Linked DNA regions of Homo sapiens. The protein of the gene in region 1 binds, or shares a complex with, the protein of each later gene. Each region holds a gene or a part of one and is shown on either strand. Other genes may lie near its edges. A codon is read from its position in the direction of its gene.

Evidence for each region.
Region 2: the proteins of CD40 (region 1) and CD40LG are in contact, whole or in part, in a crystal structure (PDB 3QD6), measured with the Homo sapiens proteins. Residues at the interface, in NP_001241.1 of Homo sapiens: Glu64 (codon at 7,682), Ser65 (codon at 7,679), Glu66 (codon at 7,676), His76 (codon at 7,646), Cys77 (codon at 7,643), Gln79 (codon at 7,637), Tyr82 (codon at 7,628), Asp84 (codon at 7,622), Asn86 (codon at 7,616), Leu87 (codon at 7,362), Trp109 (codon at 7,296), Cys119 (codon at 7,266); in NP_000065.1 of Homo sapiens: Ile127, Glu129, Ala130, Lys143, Gly144, Tyr145, Tyr146, Cys178, Pro217, Cys218, Gln220, Ser245, Gln246, Ser248, His249, Gly250, Thr251, Gly252.

What each region holds. Positions count from the first base shown.
Region 1 is NC_000020.11:46,120,197-46,129,973, reverse strand, and holds the end of CD40 (tumor necrosis factor receptor superfamily member 5 isoform 1 precursor), read right to left. Parts: intron 8,155-9,777; coding exon 8,076-8,154; intron 7,742-8,075; coding exon 7,616-7,741; intron 7,365-7,615; coding exon 7,218-7,364; intron 6,849-7,217; coding exon 6,755-6,848; intron 3,335-6,754; coding exon 3,273-3,334; coding exon of another isoform or gene 3,233-3,272; exon of another isoform or gene 2,813-3,232; intron 1,996-2,812; exon of another isoform or gene 1,837-1,995; coding exon 1,750-1,836; coding exon of another isoform or gene 1,738-1,749; intron 1,645-1,737; coding exon 1,616-1,644; intron 1,093-1,615; coding exon 934-1,092; coding exon of another isoform or gene 831-933; 3' UTR 116-830; downstream 1-115.
Region 2 is NC_000023.11:136,642,896-136,652,783, reverse strand, and holds the start of CD40LG (CD40 ligand), read right to left. Parts: upstream 4,627-9,888; 5' UTR 4,536-4,626; coding exon 4,380-4,535; intron 2,519-4,379; coding exon 2,387-2,518; intron 1-2,386. UniProt on the Homo sapiens protein: Cytokine that acts as a ligand to CD40/TNFRSF5. Costimulates T-cell proliferation and cytokine production.

The DNA.
Region 1 (9,777 bases):
GGAGGGGCAGCAGCCTGGGGACATTCTTATTTATCTACAGAAAATGCCCTCATTCCGTGAGCCTGACAGCAGGTTAAATAGCTCATGTCACCCAGCATGTTCACCCCCGTTTTTCTTTTTACATGTTTGATGATTTTTTAATTACATAAGCATTATGTGAATTCACTCTCCTTTTGGGAAAAATGATGAAGCATTATGGGAAAGCCAAATCTCCCTTTAACCAACCCTCCCCCAGACCCTTCTTCCCCACCCCAGACGTCACCACTCTTCGAGCTGTGGGTTTTCTGTGTACCCTTCCAGAACCCTTGTTATATCAATATATGATGCATATTGTATTTATACATATATCCATAGGCAATATACATACATAAAAGCATGTACTTTTTTAAAAAGTTCCATACCCATCATTCAGCAGCATGCCTTTTTTTCCTTACTCAACAGTGTTTTTGAGATTCTGTTGTATAAATATATTCTAATTTTATTTAGCCAGTCTCCTGCTGATGGACAGTTAAGCAGCTTCCAGTTGTTCACTATCACAAACAATGCTGCAATGGGCATCTGTGTATATGGCTTCCTGGGCGCAGGGAAGCCACCATGATGCCTCTCTGGGCACCAAACTGCTGGATCGGAAGGTCTGGTGGATATTACTAAACCATACCCCAACACCACCACCACCAAACTTCTGCCTCTGTCTTTAATACAAGTTGGGAGACTGGATGGGCTCCAGGGTGAAGTGAGAGGTTCTTCAAGGTGAACTGTTTCTGCATCCAGTGCCAGGTCTCCTGTCTCAAACTGCAGGGGTGCAGGCAGAAGCGGGGAGCTATGCCCAGTCAGTGCCAGCCCCTCACCCTCACGCCACAGCAGCAGCAGCACCAGGCTCTCTGGCCAACTGCCTGTTTGCCCACGTGGCCACACTCCTGGGTGGGTGCAGCCTCACTGTCTCTCCTGCACTGAGATGCGACTCTCTTTGCCATCCTCCTGGGTGACCGGTTGGCATCCATGTAAAGTCTCCTGCACTGGAGCAGCAGTGTTGGAGCCAGGAAGATCGTCGGGAAAATTGATCTCCTGGGGTTCCTGCTTGGGGTGGGGGGCCTGGAGAGGCAAGGTGTGAGGTCACCCCCAGCAGCAGGGGCAGCTGTGCCTCTGAGGAGCCCCTCCCTGGGAAGCGGATCCCTTCCCCAAGCCCTCCCCCCTTTCCCAGACGGCGGGTCAGTGCTGATTCCTCGGGTGCCTCCTGCCCCCTGCTGGCCACACCAAGGGCGACGAAGAGCTTCCAGAGTGGGAGCCAGTGGGCTTAAGGGGCTGCCACATTTGCTCCCACCCATTTGACCCAGCCCCAAGGCCCAAAGATGCAGCTCCCCACGCGTTGAATGCCAGGAAAGGAGTGAAGAACAGCCAGTGTTAGGCTCTGCCAGTGGTGCCAGGGGCAGTTCTGTGGGGGATTGAGCTCTGGATGGAAGGAGCATGGTGGGTGGGGATGACAGTCCCCAATTCTGCTGCCACCCCACTGGCTGCAGAGACAGACTCTGAATCAGTTTTACTGCCCCATAGGCAACCGTGAGGCCATCTTCCCAGTTTGTCAAAACTCTGTCCCGGGTTCTCAGGGGTGACCTACCTTATTGGTTGGCTTCTTGGCCACCTTTTCTAAAAAAAAAAAAAAAAAAAAAAAGGATGGGGAGTTGGAGAGGCCAGATAAGAAACAGGTGGTCTCCCCTCCCTCCCCCAACACCTCCCCACCTGAGGACTCACTGATAAAGACCAGCACCAAGAGGATGGCAAACAGGATCCCGAAGATGATGGGGATCACCACCAGGGCTCTCAGCCGATCCTGGGGACCTGGAGAAATCAGGACTTCAGCATGCACCCCTCACCTGCAGTTTCTCCCTACCCTCAACCTGCTGTGACTTGTCAGACTCCAGAATCTTCCAATGTCAGAGCTCATCTACATCAGAAGGTTCAAACCGCGGTCCTTGGGGAAATGTGGCTGGCAGATGTCTTTAAAGGAGCCAGAACATTTTCTTAACGTTTGGAAATATTTGCCGACATTTTTAAACTGGGAGATCACATATTCAAACCTAGACATCTGATTTCTCTTACAAACTGGGAAGACTGGGTTCCAGTTGGCAGCCTCCCCACCTGGGAACCATCTAGAAGCGAGTGGTGGCAGTGGCTGTCACCACCTGCTCACCATGCTCCCCGCCACTCCCTGCTCTCTGCCCAATGCCGAGGTCTAGCATGATTCATGTCTGCATGTTGCTTTTGGTATAGAAGAGTGGAGGGGAAAGGTAAAGTATTTCTCATGCCGAATTTTTTTTTCAAAGTGGGAAAATAAAAGAAAGACCAAAAGGCAGGGCGGAGACTAGCGTGAGGCAAGGGATGAAATTGTTTCAGGACAAAATTGAAAAGGATGTCCAAAACACTCAGTCATCAAGGTAAACATTCTTTTAATGCCATATTTTGAAAATCATCAGGCGGACACCAAGTCAGCAAACTACGGCCTGCAGGCTGGCTGCCTATTCCTTTTACTGGAACCAGGGCCAGGATTAGGGTGAGGTGAGTGAGGCAGGGTCATGCAAACACAGGGTCGGATCCTGTTCTTTATTTAAAATGTTGCTATCTTGCTCATCATGGATTTCTTTGCATTAATTTTTATTTTTAAAAATATTGCATCAAAATGAATTTACCTTGATTACTACACTTTTATGGCACCTTCTTAAATATTGCGCCCGAGGGCAAGTGCCTTGCTCACCTCATTCTAGTCCCAGCCCTACAAAGAGGAAAGTACATTTTGAGAAAAAGCAAAGAGAATGTATTTTTCGTTTTTTTAAATTTTATTATTATTATACTTTAAGCTTTAGGGTACATGTGCATAATGTGCAGGTTTGTTACATATGTATACATGTACCATGTTGGTGTGCTGCACCCATTAACTGGTCATTTAGCGTTAGGTAAAGAGAATGTAATTTTCTTACCCCTGACCTTTTTCACTGATTTACATTATCTGATCTTTACTGTAGGCCAACCTTCTCACTCTAAAATCAAAACCTACTAAGGAAGTGCTGTTATCATCCCATTTTACAGATGAAGAAACTGAGGCTAAGAGAGGGGAAGTGATTTGCCCAGACTCCCAAGATAAGTGGCAGAGCTGTGATACCACACCCCCAAACTGCCTCCCCTCCCCTTTTTCCCATCCAGTGTTCCTGTGTGCCTCATCTCCCCCTTCAGTTCCCACCTTCCTAGGCTTTCTCCAGGGCCCATTGTCCAGGACTCACCACAGACAACATCAGTCTTGTTTGTGCCTGCCTGTTGCACAACCAGGTCTTTGGTCTCACAGCTATGCACAGACACGTGCACAAATGCACACACACAGAGAAAGAAAGAGATATTAAGTTTCCCCAAGCATAAGATTTCCAACTCTAGAGTGAGTCAGTCAACAATCAACAAATCCAGGTTCACTGAGCACACAACACGTGCAACGTCCTATGCTGGTTATTATAGGAACGACACAGACTCTTCTTACAGAACTTAAAAGTGCAGAGAAAAGATTCTTGCACATCTTGAAGGAGTAATAAATAGGGGAGTCTATAATGAGTGCCAAGCTTTGTGATCTAGGTAGGCTAAAGTGAGATGGGAATGGTTCAGAGGAGACAGAATCCACCAAGGCTGGAATGGAGAGATGATGAGTTCAGCTTAAGATAGGGTTACTCAACGTCAGCACCAGTGACACTTGGGCTGGATCATTATTTACTGGGGGTGTGGGGGTGGGGGTGGGCTGTCCTATGCATTGCAGATGTTCAGCAGCATCCCTGGCCTCTATCCGCCAGATCCCTGTAGCATCCCCCTCTCCGTTTGTGACGAATGAAATGTGTCCAGACATTGGCAAACGTTCCACAGGGAGCAAAACTGCCCCCTGTTGAGAACCTCTGGTTTAAGGTTCTTCCAGAAAGACTTCCCTGAGGACATATGACCTGAGTGGGCCCTAAAGGATGTAAAATTTGGATCAGCAGTGCAGTCCCGCTAAGTGGGACGATGTGATGTGGGGAAATAAGGCAGGTGGCATGCAGGATGGTGTTAGGAAACTATGGAAAATTGTGTCTTTAGAACCAGATCACTGCCAAGTGTGAAGTTTTCAACTGGATTCAGCTGGTCAGTCTCATCAGCATCCAACCAGGCGACTTCACTAGTGAGAAGATTCAGCTGCCCAGAGAGCTCAGAGGAGGAGAAATTACAGAAGAGTGGCCAGCCAGGAGACACAGCAAACATATAGATATGAGATGATGAAGACCTGGTCCAGGTGGCCCCAGGAGGAGTGGGGCGGAATGGACACAGGACATTGCAAAGGAAAAATCATCTAAGGTGGGAGAAAGAGAGAGAAGCTTTGAAGAAACCATGTACTTTAGTCTTTTTTTTTTTTTTTTTTTTTTTTTGAGACAGAGTCTTGCTCTTTCGCCAGACTGGCTGGAATGCAGTGGCGCGATCTCAGCTCACTGCAACCTCCACCTCCCAGGTTCAAGCAATTCTCCTGCCTCCGCCTCCTGAGTAGCTGGGACTACAGATGTGCGCCACCACGCCCAGCTAATTTTTGTATTTTTAGTAGAGACAGGGTTTTACCATATTAGCCAGGATGGTCTCGATCTCTTGACCTCATGATCTGCCCTCCTCGGCCTCCCAAAGTGCTGCAATTACAGGTGTGAGCCACCACGCCCGGCCTACTTTAGTCTTACATGAGTAGAGCATTCAGGAATTTACAATACACTTTACATGTTTTTAGCTCAAGCCTTGTGAAATGAAGGTCATTCCCATTTTTCAGATGAGGAGACTGAGGCTCAGTGAGGGTCACACACTTACTGAGCTGTAATCAGATACGTAAGCCAATGCACTGATTCCATTAATACTATACCACTGGTGGCCGGGCACGGTGGCTCACGCCTGTAATCCCAGCACTTTGGGAGGCCAAGGCAGACGGATCACGAGGTCAGGAGATCAAGACCATCCTGGCTAACACGGTGAAACGCCGTCTCTACTAAAAATACAAAAAAATTAGCCGGGTGTGGTGGCGGGCGCCTATAGTCCCAGCTACTCAGGAGGCTGAGGCAGGAGAATGGCGTGAACCTGGGAGGCAGAGCTTGCAGTGAGCCGAGATTGCGCCACTGCACTCCAGCCTGGGCGACAGAGTGAGACTCTGTCTCAAAAAAAAAAAAAAAAAAAAAAAAAAAAAAAAACTATACCAGTGGTGCCTCCAGTTATCAGTCAACATTTATCAGTAAAAATTTAAGCACCTACCATGCGTCAGGTACTGTTCCAGGTATAGGGGATGTATCAATGGAAGAAAAAAAAAAGGCCAAGTTTCTACATTTAAGGAATTTTCAATCTATTAGGGAAAGGCAGACAGTTAACAAATAAAATGTATACTCCTATTTGTGCAAAAGTAAAAGGAGGGAAATTTTGTGTGTGTTTGTGTGTGTGTGTGTGTGTGTTGGTTTGTTTATATGTAGAATCTCTGGAAGGATATGCAAGGAACAATGGCTCCCTCCAGAAAGAACTGGGAGCCTAAGGGGCAGGGATGGGAGAAAGACATCACTTTGGCTCTTTTGTGCCTTCTGTCCCATGTGCCTATCTTGCCCATTTTTAAAAATCAAATGCAAAAAGTTAATGGGGCAGGTGTTTGTTTTTTGAGACAGAATGTCGCTCTGTTGCCCAGGCTGGAGTGCAGTGGCGCTATCTTGGCTCACTGCAAACTCCACCTTCCGGGTTCAAGTGATTCTCCTGCCTCAGCCTCCCGAGGAGCTGGGATTACAGGCGCCCACCACCACACCCAGCTAATTTTTTGGTATTTTTAGTAGAGATGGGTTTTTACCATGTTGTGCTGGCTGGTCTTGAACTCCTGACCTCAAGTGATCCACCCGCCTTGGCATCCAAAGTGCTGAGATTACAGGCAAGAGCCACCGCGCCTGGCCTGGGGCCCATGTTTAAGGTATTCCAGGCAGATGAGTTTGATGGAAGAGAATGAACAGTGTGTTCAGAGGATTGCAAGTAGCATGAAGCTATGCGATGCAGGAAAGAGAGCAGGAAATGCAACAGGAAGGTTGGGTGCCATGCTAAGGAGTCTTAGTTCCAACAGAGAGACAGGAAGCATCTCAAATAGGAGAGTGTCATGATTTGAAAGAAACTGTCGAACGCTCATGTTGGCAAGAGGATGGAGACAGAACCAGCAGGAGGGGAGAGACAGAGGCAGGGAGGCCAGGAGGCAGAAAAGGCATCACCCAGACCACAGTGATGAGGCCCAAACTAAAGTGACAACAGTGGAGACAGTAAGTTCCCAAAACACGTAGACAGCCAGTGGCAGGACCTGGTGTGGGTTTGGAGTTGGAGGTAAGAGAGGGAGGCCCTCAGGGTGAGCACCCAGAGCCCAGAAAGCCCTAGAAAGCCAGGTAAGGTGAAAGCAAGACGAGGAAAACTGAGGAGAAGCAGGAGGGGCAGAAGGAAAGCTAAAATAAGTGTCCCAATACCCCCAAGATAGGAGGCTCTCATGAAGCGAGAGATCAACAGTGTCTATTACCTCAAAGAGACAGCAGGCAAAAAAAATGTGGAAATGTGCCTGTCTGGTTGGCCATGAGGCCACTCTGCAGATGCTTCACAAGTACATGAGTGTGTGTGGACCTCTGGGAGCAGGGACAGGACAGGTGGCTGGAGAGAATGGAGGCAGCTCCATGCCACTCTTAGAGCAGGAAACACAAGGGATGAGTGCTTATACCTTGTCCAAGGGTGACATTTTTCGAAAGCAGATGACACATTGGAGAAGAAGCCGACTGGGCAGGGCTCGCAGATGGTATCAGAAACCCCTGTAGCTGGGAGTGGGTGGGGAGGGGGACATTAACCATCACAGTGGACCACCTGTCCGGCTCACAAGGCAGCCAGTGGCCAGGCAGGACGGGAAGAGCTCCTGCCTTGAGCACTCTTCCCCCGATGTGGTACTGCCCCCGACAGCTGCAGTCCCCAGGAGGACTTCTCCCATTGCCCTTCAAAGGCAGATCCCCATGGCAGAAGGCAGAATGAACAAGGTCCCGTCTGCAGCTCACTCCAGTGGGGATACCGACATAGGTTGGAGCCTCTGCTTCCTCTGCCTCTGGGGCTAAGTGCCCACTGCCCAGCCCCTCACCTTGGGCCCTAAGCTCCTCTGTCCCCCTCCAAAACTGATTCCCAGATGAGCCACTTACCAATCTGCTTGACCCCAAAGCCGGGCGAGCATGAGCGGTGCAGGACACAGCTCTCACAGGCCTCACTCGTACAGTGCCAGCCTTCTTCACAGGTGCAGATGGTGTCTGTTTCTGAGGTGCCCTTCTGCTGGACCCGAAGCCCTAGGTCTGAGAAGAGAAGGGCAGGAAGGATGGGAACCCCCTGCTGGGCCATGCTCTGAGCCTCACTCCCCACATTGCCTGCTCTTTCTTCCTCAGACCCTCTTCCAAGTAGAGATGGCAATCAAATCATTTAATGATCAGTACAGCCCGGACTCCAACCAATCAGAGCAGACCCTGGCTACATAAAATTAGAATGGCTGCATTGTCGGGAATATCAGCCCGGTTCCCAAGCGTCCCTTTCCCAACAGCGCACGCACTGGGGTCGCAGTATTTGTGCTGGTGGCAGTGTGTCTCTCTGTTCCAGGTGTCTAGGAATTCGCTTTCACCGCAAGGAAGGCATTCCGTTTCAGTGAACTCTGTGCAGTCACTCACCAGTTTCTGTCCTGGAAAACATCAGGAAATGAGGGAGGGCTCTGGCCAACTCCATGAGTCAGACACTAACCACACAATGATCAGGCCAGGCTTTAGGGTAGGGGATTCAAAGATGAAAGTCTTGGATCCTTCATAATCAGGCGAGGAAGATGGAGAAGCTGGGATCCCTAGTTCAGGGTAGACAGAGTTTTACCTGGTAGAGAGGGAACCAGAACATTCTGACAGTGAAGCAGGGCTGGGAAATGGGTCGTTTCAGATTTGAGTTTACAGTTAACATATGGGGTCTGCGTCTGCCACCAAAGCAAAGGGGGACTCCATGATGGGGCTAGAGGGTTGGCATCTCACCTGGCTGGCACAAAGAACAGCACTGACTGTTTATTAGGTACTGTTTTTCTCTGCATGCAGTGGGTGGTTCTGGATGGACCTAAAAACAGAATTGTGCAATTTGAAGGGATCTTGAAATCTCCGTTGCAACTTCTTCAGCAGAAAGGTAAAAGTCATCCAGGACAGAGGCTGCAAACTGAAGTGCAAGTCAAAACAGAAAGTGGAACCTGCATGATATTTGGCATGTTTGTTTTCAAGTAAATTGTCAACTGAGCTGATTATAATCGCACCCAGAGAATCATTCTGGTATTTTTACAAAGCAATGGTACTGTAAACTCACAATATTCTCTGAACAGAACAGAATTCCTTGGGGCTTGATGCCTGAGTCATTCCTCTTCCCAAAGATCCCATAGGATATGGGGACTCCAGCAGCTCCCCTGGAGTCCTGAAGCTGGCTGACTTCAGCTGGTCCCAGTGCTGTTTGGGGCTATGTTTAGCACTTGGCCTCTTCCTCCTATTCTTCTGCTTCCCTTCCTGCTCCTTTCCAAAGCCCATCATGTTTTCTTCCTCCAACTCCTCATCATCTGTTCATCCAGCCCTTCCCTCATAAAATGCTAGAATGTAAAGCTGGAAGGGTAAACTCACACTTTCATTTTACAGATAGTTGAGACTGAGCACCAAAGAGGAGGGTCACTTGCCCAGAGTCTCACAGTGACAGAGTCCAAATGAGAACTCAGGTCTCAATGCTCCTCTCTCCATCAACTTGTGTTTCATCTTCACCATTTTACTACATCCAGGTACCACCCATGCTATTAATTACTTATTGTTAATTTCAATACTTTTATTTTATTTTTTGAGACAGAGTCTCGCTCCATCGCCCAGGCTGGAGTGCAGTGGCATCATCTCAGCCCACTGCAACCTCTATCTCCTGGGTTCAAGCAATTCTCCAGCCTCAGCCTCCTGAGTAGCTGGGATTACAGGTGTGTACCACTATGCCCGGCTAATTTATGTATTTTTAGTAGAGACAGGGTTTCACCATGTTGGCCAGGCTGATCTAAAACTCCTGACCTCAAGTGATCTGACTGCCTTGGCCTCCCAAAGTGCTGGGATTACAGGCACAAGCCACCGTGCCTGGCCGGTACATTTACTTTAAATGTAAACCTCACATCATTGCCAAGAGACAAGAACCAGTATCACTTCTCATAAATAAAAGGTAACCCTAAAAATAAATTCTGGGGAAACAAAACAAGGTTATTAAAACCCAGCTGGTTGTTTGCTTGTTGAAGGCCCTCCCAGGCCTGCTCTTGATTTTTGTTTTAAAAGAAGGATTAGCAAGCCTTTGAGAGGCATTAACTCTATTCTAGCTCCAGAGACTTCCTCTTTGAAAAAATGAGAAGGATTTTTAAAAGAACTGTAAAGTAAGTGTATGTTTAATTCTATGTCCATGTGCTCCTTAAAACTGTCCCACAGTTTGGGAACAGCCAGTGAAAAGAACACAAGTTTGAGAGTCAGACAGCTTTAGACTCCAGTCCTGACTTTGTAACACTTACTAGTTATTTTGCTTCTCTTAGCCTCAGTTTCTCTATCTCTAAAATGGGAGTAATAATGCCTGCCCTGCAGGTTGGATTACGAAGATAAGAAAGAATACATGTATATGGCCTAGCACAGTGTCAGGAACATAGTAGGTGCTCATTAAATGGCAATTTTAATCATCATTCATTTG
Region 2 (9,888 bases), on another chromosome or scaffold:
TGGTGGGCAAATAATCATGGAACTGAACATCTAGCAGAGGTGTGGTGGGTTGTAAGTTTTAATATGAAATTATACTATTCAAAATAATACCTCTGCTTACCCTCACTTGAGCCCTGAATACCATCTTTCCCCCAAAATGACAGATTAGTGCTACCTGCCTCCAGAGATAATGAGTTCCTTGTCACTAGAGATGTTCAAACAGAGATTGGATGACCACTTAGTCAGGAGGTGGAGAGAAGACTGAAGTTGTGGATTGAGAATTGGATCTGATGACTTCTAAGACCCCATCAAGACCTGATTCAAAGACTCCAAATTCAAACTTGAGGTTGCTTAGGTGCAGCCAGACTGTGGCCCGGAAAGAAAGCCTACTAACATTAGCTAAGAAAATATGAATCTAATCTGGAGCTATTCTATAATTGTCCTATTGAGTTTTTTCAAAGTCTCGAATTTTGTTTTAGGGTGAGAAATTTGGGGGAAAGCGTATTGGAAAGGGGATCCGTCATTGGGGGAGGATTGGGTAGCTGGAGGACTTTGTATCTACTCATTGTACGTAATCCTAGGTATAGGTGGTGTTGACTAGGGTTCCACACCTGCTGCAGTAGAGACAAGGAGCCTCCTTAGTTGCATGTAAGGAGGAGATCCCTGGGGCCCTGGCTGACATGCCTGAGAAGATCTGCCTTTTAAGAATATGAAACTTTGGAGCTGTCACTTTTTTCATACAAGCATAAGCAGGGAGGCCAAACTGACTGTTTTCTTTACTCCTATCCTCGGTAGCTGATTTTGGGAGCTTTACATACATAGCCAACCTGAAATAATGACGTGAGGAATTGACAATTCAACCGTAAAAGTCTCCGTAAGAAACGAGGGGGACTGACAAGCCACTCTCACTGCCATTGGAGGGAACTGAAGGCTTATCACATAATTGTAGAATGTCAGAGCTGATAGTGCCCTTACAGATAATCTGTCTTCTCATGTTATAGATGACAAAACTGAGGCCCAGAAAGGTGAAGTTATTTACCCAAAGTCACATAGCCAAGCACATTCAGTCTGTTATTTGGATTATTAGCCATTGTTTTGAAAGTGCCTTTATTCACATTTAAACTGGTAACATCTTCCAATACTCTGTAATACTGGCCCAAATCCTCGAAGAACCGAAGAAACTCAAATCATTTTCCTAGCTGGCCAGTCTTGCAAAGAAAGGGTTTAGGAGTTTCATCTAAAGCCTAGATTAGTGTAAAGAACCTGAAAGCAAGCAGCGGATTTGAGCCACATTCTGTTCTCCGTAGGTGACTCAGGAATAAGCTGTTAGAGTCTTCACTAATGAATTAAATGGCACCTCGGTGACAGTACAGGAGGGCAGAAATAAGATCAGAAATAAGATCTTAACCCTTTTACGCCTGCATTAAATTACACATCATCTATATGTGAGAACTAATTCCTGTTGGTTTACCCAGATACCCACCCACCTGGCCCAGAACTGTCCTCAATGTGGAGTGCTGCCTCCTAGAAATGACCCCTAAGTGAGCCGAGGCCCAAGGGTATTTGACTCAGTGTTCTGAAAGGGACATAGGCAGAAAGAACTCTTGATGTTCTGCCTCAGGAGAAAGAGCCCCTAGACCCTATGTCTGTGATGATGGAATTAATGTAAAGGTTCTAAAAATTCTTGTTTTAGGTATCTGTTATAAGCCACAGTCACTGCAGTGACTTCATGCTAGCTACCAGCCTGGTGGGCTAAAAGGCTTTGAACCCTCTGTGCCTCTGGTCATGACCGGCCATAGAGTGGGCGGGCTTCATGAGCAAGTGATATTATATGGAGTCTGGTTTGAGCGACACTGAGAATGTCTATTACTTATTCCCTGCACCTCTCTCCCCAGTAAAAGGGAAAGATCTCACTGTCAGGACACCTAAAATTCCATCATCAGAGAAGCACCAGAGACTGTTACCAGTCTTCAGGTGTCCCTTCACTTGTGGCCTGCTGCCACGGCAGCTGTTGACGGCTATTGCTTCCCTGGGAAATGGGGATCAGACTCTGGGTCCCCAGTGCGAGAGCATCAAGGTTTGGATGGGGAGACACAGCAATGCAAAAACCAAGCTTGGTGGACTTCATCATTTTGCCTAGTGGTAGCTGCATATGTAAGCTGACAAATATGTGTGACTGTGCCCCTAAGGGTGTATTTTCCCCAGAGAGTGTCTTTGTGTTTTTTTTTTTTAACCCCCACACACACACCCATGTATGTGTGTATATCTGCATGCATATATATGTGTGTGTGTGTCTGTGTGTCTGTGTCTATAACCAATCTTTAAACATTGGCATTGTCAGTTTCCCGATCTAGCAAATGTAGTAAAATATTTCAATGACACTTTTACCAGTAATTAAGCTGCTTACCTTCACAAAGCCTTCAAACTGGCTTTTAATCTCCTCACAGTTCAGTAAGGATAAGGATCTTTCTCCTGTGTTGCATCTCTGTATCGTTTTCATGAATACAAAATCTTCATGAAGATTCCTTTCATCTTCTATCTATTTTGGAATAACAAGGATATGATAAATGTCATTCGGAAGGAGAATACAGCTAATGATATCTGCCTCTACATTCATTTCCACGGCATCAACAAGAGGAGGACTTTCAGGCATAAATGGAGAATAATAAGTTATTATATTGGCTGATTGCTATTTTGTATTTGCAGTTTAAAAATCTATAAAAGACAGCAATTAAGATGTCATGTTATCAGAAACTCCAGGTAGAAATCAGAGCTATTCTACTAAATGTTCACTACAAAATGCATATTTTTTCAACATACTATAGCAGCAATATTCTGTAATTGTCACATTTCTCATTGCTTCAGTAATGATTGGTCATTATAAACATCAGCCTAGAAAATAGTTTTCTGCAGAGCTAATTTGCCCACTTCATTTTAGTGTTTGTGATGCAGTGCTTTATAAAAAGAAGTTAATTTGCAATGTGTCAGTTAACGAGTTCTAATTACATCTCTCTCCCTTTTAACTTTAGTATTTGTAGAAAACATTTGCATTTTTAAAGAAATCATCTTTTATCCTCAAAGTAACAAGATATTTTATTTTCCAATGTCTTAGAATAATTAAATGTACAGAATTCACTTGCATTATCAACTAATTTTATACCATTTTCTTGCTTTAAGAGTAGATTTTTTAGATTCAAAACAAGATTCAGTTAGCTGGCAGCTTCTGCTGTAATTAAGAGCACATGTAAATAGTACGGTAAATATCAGTCCACTGAGGTCACTATTGCCCCTTTAGAAGCTAGGCCTATGTCCATACATTTGATTGACAGAGCACATCAGGCCAAACACAAATAACCAACCAGACCAGAAGCCCCCTCTTTTGTCAGCAGTGAAACCTAATATTTGGATAACCCAGTGGATGACTTCAGCCCTCACTACCTCACCTTATCCTGTTAGAAAAATCTCATGACATTAATTCTAGGTCCAGATCCTAAGAGAGGACACTCAAGTATCCCTGATAAAGTGCAATCATCCAGATGCTTTCTAGCCACAGTTCCTGCATCCAGAATTTTAGGAACAGCCAGAAAACTAATCAACTTTCTCCTTTACATCTATGATTGGTATTTTGTCAACACCAGCCAATTATACTCCTCAGTGGAAGTGAAAAAATACATGAAAACAAAATAAGTCCTGATGGTTTTCTTTTCCTAAGAATGCAAAACAGCCTACTAAGTTACTCTGCTCTTTTGTTCCTGCAAGTCTAACCATTTAAAAATGTAAAACATCTCAGAGGGAGACTGAGCATCCTGCAACTACAATCAGTGCTTGTGAAGAATTACACAGAAAATGCTACTTTTACTAAAAGACTGCAAATTCTGGGACTTATCCATGTCTATGTTAATCTGAAGCATTATGAAATTTTAGATCAAATTGACGCTCTTCTTGCCTAGCTGGAAATTTAAAAGAAAAAAGCTGTCTCCATAAAAAAATAGCTTACTTTTAAAGCAGAACTTTAGCAAATAATTATAGCTAGTGCGTACATAGTGCTTACTATGTATCAGACCCCCTCCTAAGCTTTTTACAAGGCTAAACTCACTTAATCTATGAAATGGACACCAATACCATCCCCATTTCTCAGATGTGGAAACTGAGGCACTTGCCCCAGGATAACAGAGATGGTATGGGCAGAGCCAAGATTTGAACCCAGGCAGTCTGACTCCAGATCCCAAGATCCTAACCAGAGACAAGAATATGAGACTTCATTGACTAGGCAACAAACATTATGCCACAAGACCATTCTTCTATTTGGTTTCTACCATCATCCATCATTTGGGTAGAACCAACCTATGAATTAGTAAGGACCCCAAATTTAGTTAATAAAGGCTTGTGGTTCATCTTACCTTGTCCAACCTTCTATGAAGATACACAGCAAAAAGTGCTGACCCAATCATCTGGGTGATAAGAAAAACAGTAAGTAAATACATAAAAATTTTCATGCTGATGGGCAGTCCAGTGGCCGCAGATCGGGGAGAAGTTTGGTTGTATGTTTCGATCATGCTGTGTTAAAGTTGAAATGGTATCTTCTGGCAGAGAAGGTGGCAGAGGCAGCATGAGAAGACTGTCAAAGTGGCCACCTTACTCAGGATTAGTTAAGAGCGCACAATCGTTGCAGCCCACACTTCCTGGAAAATGTGCTTCGTAGTCTTCTCTCCCAGCAAAAACGTTACGTAAAGGTTTTTTGTTTTTTTTTTTTTTTTTAATTATACCCATATCATTCACTTCCAGGCTTTCCTTTTTGTAAGTAAAGAAGAAACAAGTTTCTTCTTCCATATATTCATTCTTGCCTTGAAATGTCATAGACTTCTTAACAGACAATGGCAGTATTTTCCTATCACTGTCTAACTTTTTGGGTTCACCAGTTTCAAGGAAAGTGACAAATTCATCCACCAGCAATAGACTTATTTCAATTTCAATCTTACTAATACGAAGCGGGAACCTGGTATATGGAGAAAGAAACACATGTCAACAAAAGTTTGGATTGATTTTATGACTGGTGTCCCATCAACTAATTGCTTCTCAGAACTTTACTTCTTTAATCACTAAACTCAATGAAAGCCTGGCAGGTTTTCAGGTCAAGTCTACATGGCATAAAGCAAAAAAAGCATGCTGATGGTTATTAAATAAAATTTAGCTGGAAAGATAATGCAAGAAAAATAAATTTTGCAAAGGCAAAGATAAGTAGGGTCTTGAGGGAAATCAGGCCAAGACTCTGGAATTGAAGTTAAAGTAAAAATCGTGACTTGACGTAGCTAAGCTGCCTGTGTACACTGTTCCAATCCATTAGATAATTGTTGATGCTGATGTAACAGTTCAGAATAGGGAAAATAGGCTGCAGTTAAGAGATCTGAATTCTAGTCTTTGCTCTACCAATAAATTGCTATGAGCCTTGGGCAAATCACTTCATCTCTTTAGACCTCAGTTTCCTCATACCCAAAGGAGGCACTTGCACCTGTCTTGCTTATCCTGTAGGTTGCTGTGAAGATCTAATAAAGATGTGCATGGAAGAAATTTGAAACACGTTAAGCAATAAACAATTCTCATCCTGAATTTTTTGGAATTTATTTAGCCTAAGACATGAGTTTAACAAATAATTGCCAACTCCTTACATGTTGGTAAAAACCAAATGAACAATAACAATATTAAAAACACCTTAAGTTTTGACAATGAATTGAATCACTGAAGTGTGTAGGATTACACATTTCTGAAGGGCTTTTGCATCATCTTATCAGATTTCCTTCAAACTAAAAGCAGCTGTGGAAATCCCTACCTCACATCCAAACCTGGTCTAGAAACCATGATAAAATTGCTTTGATGATTCCTATAAAATTGTTTTGAGAGACAAATAGGAAACGTAAAAACTGCTCTGATAGGCATGCTATCTATATAGTTAGCACCTGCTTTCTTCCCCTCCCACGCCCCAGCATCCTGTCCTGGGCCCAGATCTATGTAGCTTTTCACTACATCTGCCAAGTAGGTGGCTTCGATGCACGTGATGAACTTTGATCAGTCAAGTCAGAGGCTTTGGTTCTTAGACAAGTAACCTTAGTTCCACTGAAGGAAAATTATCATGAGAGCCAAAATGGGCTCAAGGACTTCTGCACTGTCAGTTTTATACAACTTGAGAGTGCCAGAGCTGCAGGGGCCCTGCAATCAGCTCAGCCAAGACCCGAGGGAGGGGAGGCTGAAGGTCACAGATTTGTTCACGTGACCAACTTGAAAAAACAGTTGTTGTCCAACCTCCTTGCCTCAACTTCTTGATCCCCAGCCTCCTACAGTCTGACTTCTGCCCACAATATTCCCCTGAAATTGATCCCACCATTATTAGCTCAATAATAGTTTTGGCTGAATACTTCTTAGAGTTTATTTTTAGCGACCTCTCTATTACTCTGTTGACCTATTATCCTGTTGTCATCTTCCTGAATGCTCTCCCCACTTGAATTCTATATCACCCTATTCTTAAGGGCTTCTGCCTCTCAGAATCCTTCTTCATGTTATCTTCTTTCCTCTTTGTATCCCTTAAAACTTTGGTATTCCTTCTCTCTATTTCCTTTCCTTCTCCCTTCTCCTCTCCTCCCCTCTCTTCTTGTTCTCCATGGTTTCATTGGGTGATTCATGGGTTTCATGAACTTTCATGGGTTTCAATCTCACCTTCATTGTGATAAATCTCAAATCTATAACTGAAGTCCTGAACTTCAGAGTTGTAAGCACAGCTACCTCTGAAAATCTCTACTTGGATATCCCAAAGCCATCTTACATTTGGTATGCTCTAAAATTAATTTATCTCACCACTCTAATTCCAATCCAGACCTGTTCTCCCTTAAGATTCTCCGTATCTCTGTGAATGGTCCCACCACCCACTTAATTGCCCAAGTCAGAGATCTGGGATCCATTCATGATTTTTCACTCTCTCTTGCCCCAGATTGCCCCAATCCCAGTGGCTTCTTCCTCCAAAAACCTTGGTTGCCACCACTTCTCTCCATGGCCCCTGCCATCATCCTATTCCAGGCCCATATATCCTCTCCTTTGTAGATTACTGAATTGTACCATCCTAACTTATCTCCCTGTTTCTCTTTCTGTCCCACCCCATCCATCTTTCACACTGACAGCAACTGACTCCAGAATGCCCTGCTTGTACCTCAATTGTTGAAGCCTTCTCTTTCTCTCATCCTTCTGCCTGGTCCTCTACCATAATGCCACAATTGGCTACCTTTCCAGCTTCCTCATTTGGGCTGTTTTTTTGATTTCTGATTCTGCATCAGAAGTTCTTTGTCTCAGAACCTCTCATGCCTGTCTCTCCCTAACAGGGAGTTGGCTCCGTTTTAATATCTTCAGCTGCCTAACACGTCCAAAAATGATTATCAAACTTAGTTTCCAAGAAATGTATACATGTATAGGAGTGCATGCAAGTGTCTATAGCCAAAATCAAATATTGACCATCTTTTTCTAAGTTTACAGAAAGAATTAAGTTAATGGATTGAAGTCTCATTTTTCAGTTATTTTTACACAGAATTTTCTTAAATATTGGTCACCCTTTTCTACTACTACTTTTCTGCTAGCTAGTGATTGATTTGTAGCAAATATCAAGGGAAAAATAAGAAAAACAATGGATCATACTTCAACAGTTTGTTTTTGATGTGAATATGCCTGTGGTTGTGATTTTATATTGATAACCCAGAACACAGTCATAATTTCTGCTTGGAAAATCATTTCCAGTACATATGAAAGAGTTAAATATAACAGTATTTTGTTTGTTGTATGAAGGGCCTCCTAAGGGTTCTTTTCCCTGAATATACCTGAAAAGCTCTAGACTAGAGGAAAGGGTCTCGATTCTTAACATGGCAGATGAGTTGACCCCTGCCCACATTTCTCTCCTCATCGTCTACGACTCATTAGGTCTCAAACATTTTAAGCTAGTTTTATTTCCTGAAATGTGCTGTGCTTATTCATGTTATTTGTGTGCCAAGGCTAATTCTCTCCTGTCTTATCTATTAATGTTTTTTGTTTGTTTGTTTGTTTGTTTGAGACAAAGTCTCACTCTGTCGCCCAGACTGGAGTGCAATGGCACGATCTCAGCTCACTGAAACCTCCATCTCCCAGGTTCAAACGATTCTCCTGCCTCAGCCTCCCAAGTAGCTGGGACTACAGGCTTGCGCAACCGCGCCTGGATAATTTTTACAAAATTTTTTTAGTAGAGACGGGGTTTCACCATATTGGCTAGGCTGGTCTCAAACTCCTGACCTCATGATCTGCCAGCCTCGGTGTCCCAAAGTGCTGGGATTACAGATGTGAACCACAGCGCCCGGCTATCTATTAATGTTTAAGTGAAATATTCTGTTCCAGCTGACAAGGTGCTCTCTTCTGTACTTAATCTTTTTGTTGTTGTTGTTGTTGAGAAGGAGTCTGGCTTTGTCACCCAGGCTGGAGTGCAGTGTCATAATCTTGGCTCACTACAACCTCCACCTCCCGGGTTCAAGTGATTCTCCAGCCTCAGCCTCTTGAGTAGCTGGGATTACAGGCGTGCACCACTCTGCCTGGCTAATATTTGTAAATTTAGTAGAGACGGGGTTTCACCAAGTTGGCCAGGCTGGTCTTGAACTCCTGACCTCAGGTGATCCACATGCCTTGGCCTCCCAAAGTGCTGGGATTACACAGGCGTGAGCCACTGTGCCCTACCTCTTCTGTGCTTAATCTATCATAGCATTTGCCACATCATATCATAATGGACTTGTCTGATTTTTCTACCATTAGCTATTAGAGGAAAAAGATAATTAAAACAAACAAACAAACAAAAAAACCCAGAAATTTTGGTTCCTGACACATTGTAAGGAGTTAGTAAATGTTTGCCAAATTACTAAATATTATTTTAAAGAGATAGAAGGGGAAGTTGTAAAATATTCTAACCTGGGAGAATAGCGCTTGGCTAGCTTTTCTAGCAATACATGTCAGAATATATTTACATTTTCTTCAATTCCCTTAATTCTCCCTCTTTCCTCTGGGTCAGTTCCATTTGTTTATTTTGGTCCTTTTCATTATGTTGCTAGTTTTTCTCAAATGCTTGGCCATTTATTTATTTATGAATGAAAACCCGTGTTGGTTATTATGGGTAGATGGCATGAGTTTCCTCTGCAATTGTGTTGATCTATCTGTTTTCCCCACAAACCTCTCTCCGGAATGGGAGGGCTGACTGTGGGTTCTGTTTAAGTGGGTAGGAAATGTCAACAGTCAGGCTTCCCTTTAGGTTATGTGGGTGGAGAGGCAGGAAGACCAGGGACCCCCACAACTGATGAAGTAAGGAGGGCTTTTCTCTGGGGGTGGAGCCTTGTAGAAGGTTTCACTCTTGACTAATATTGGTTTTCCTTTTGGTTTTGTCCTCCTATCTGTTGTGGAGGTCTCAGCACCCTTCCTAGAGCCCTCTCTAGGTAACTTTAGACTGAGGGCCAAGGCCAAATGCTGCTGCTAACAAATGGTCCACTGGGGGAAAGGAGAGAGAGGGAGAGGGCCACTTTTCCCAGCTGTTTCCGCTGCCGCTCTTCAATGATTGCCTCATAGCCCACCCCTGCTCCTCACATTCATTGACTCTGTGATTAATGCTTCTTTGGGAAAGCATACTCTTACAACTTATTGAATTGCAATGTTTACTGCTCTGATCTGTCTGTTAGTCCAAATTCATGGCCTTTCTTGCTTGTTGCTATCTCTCAAAATTTATGTCACATTGATGTCACCTTTTCTTATTTCCTATGGTTGTTGTGGTTTCTTCCTTTTTATATTTATTTTTGACTAAATAATACATTCACATGGTCTAAAATGTAAATGAAAGAGTATGAAAGAGTATGTAATGCAGTCTTTTTC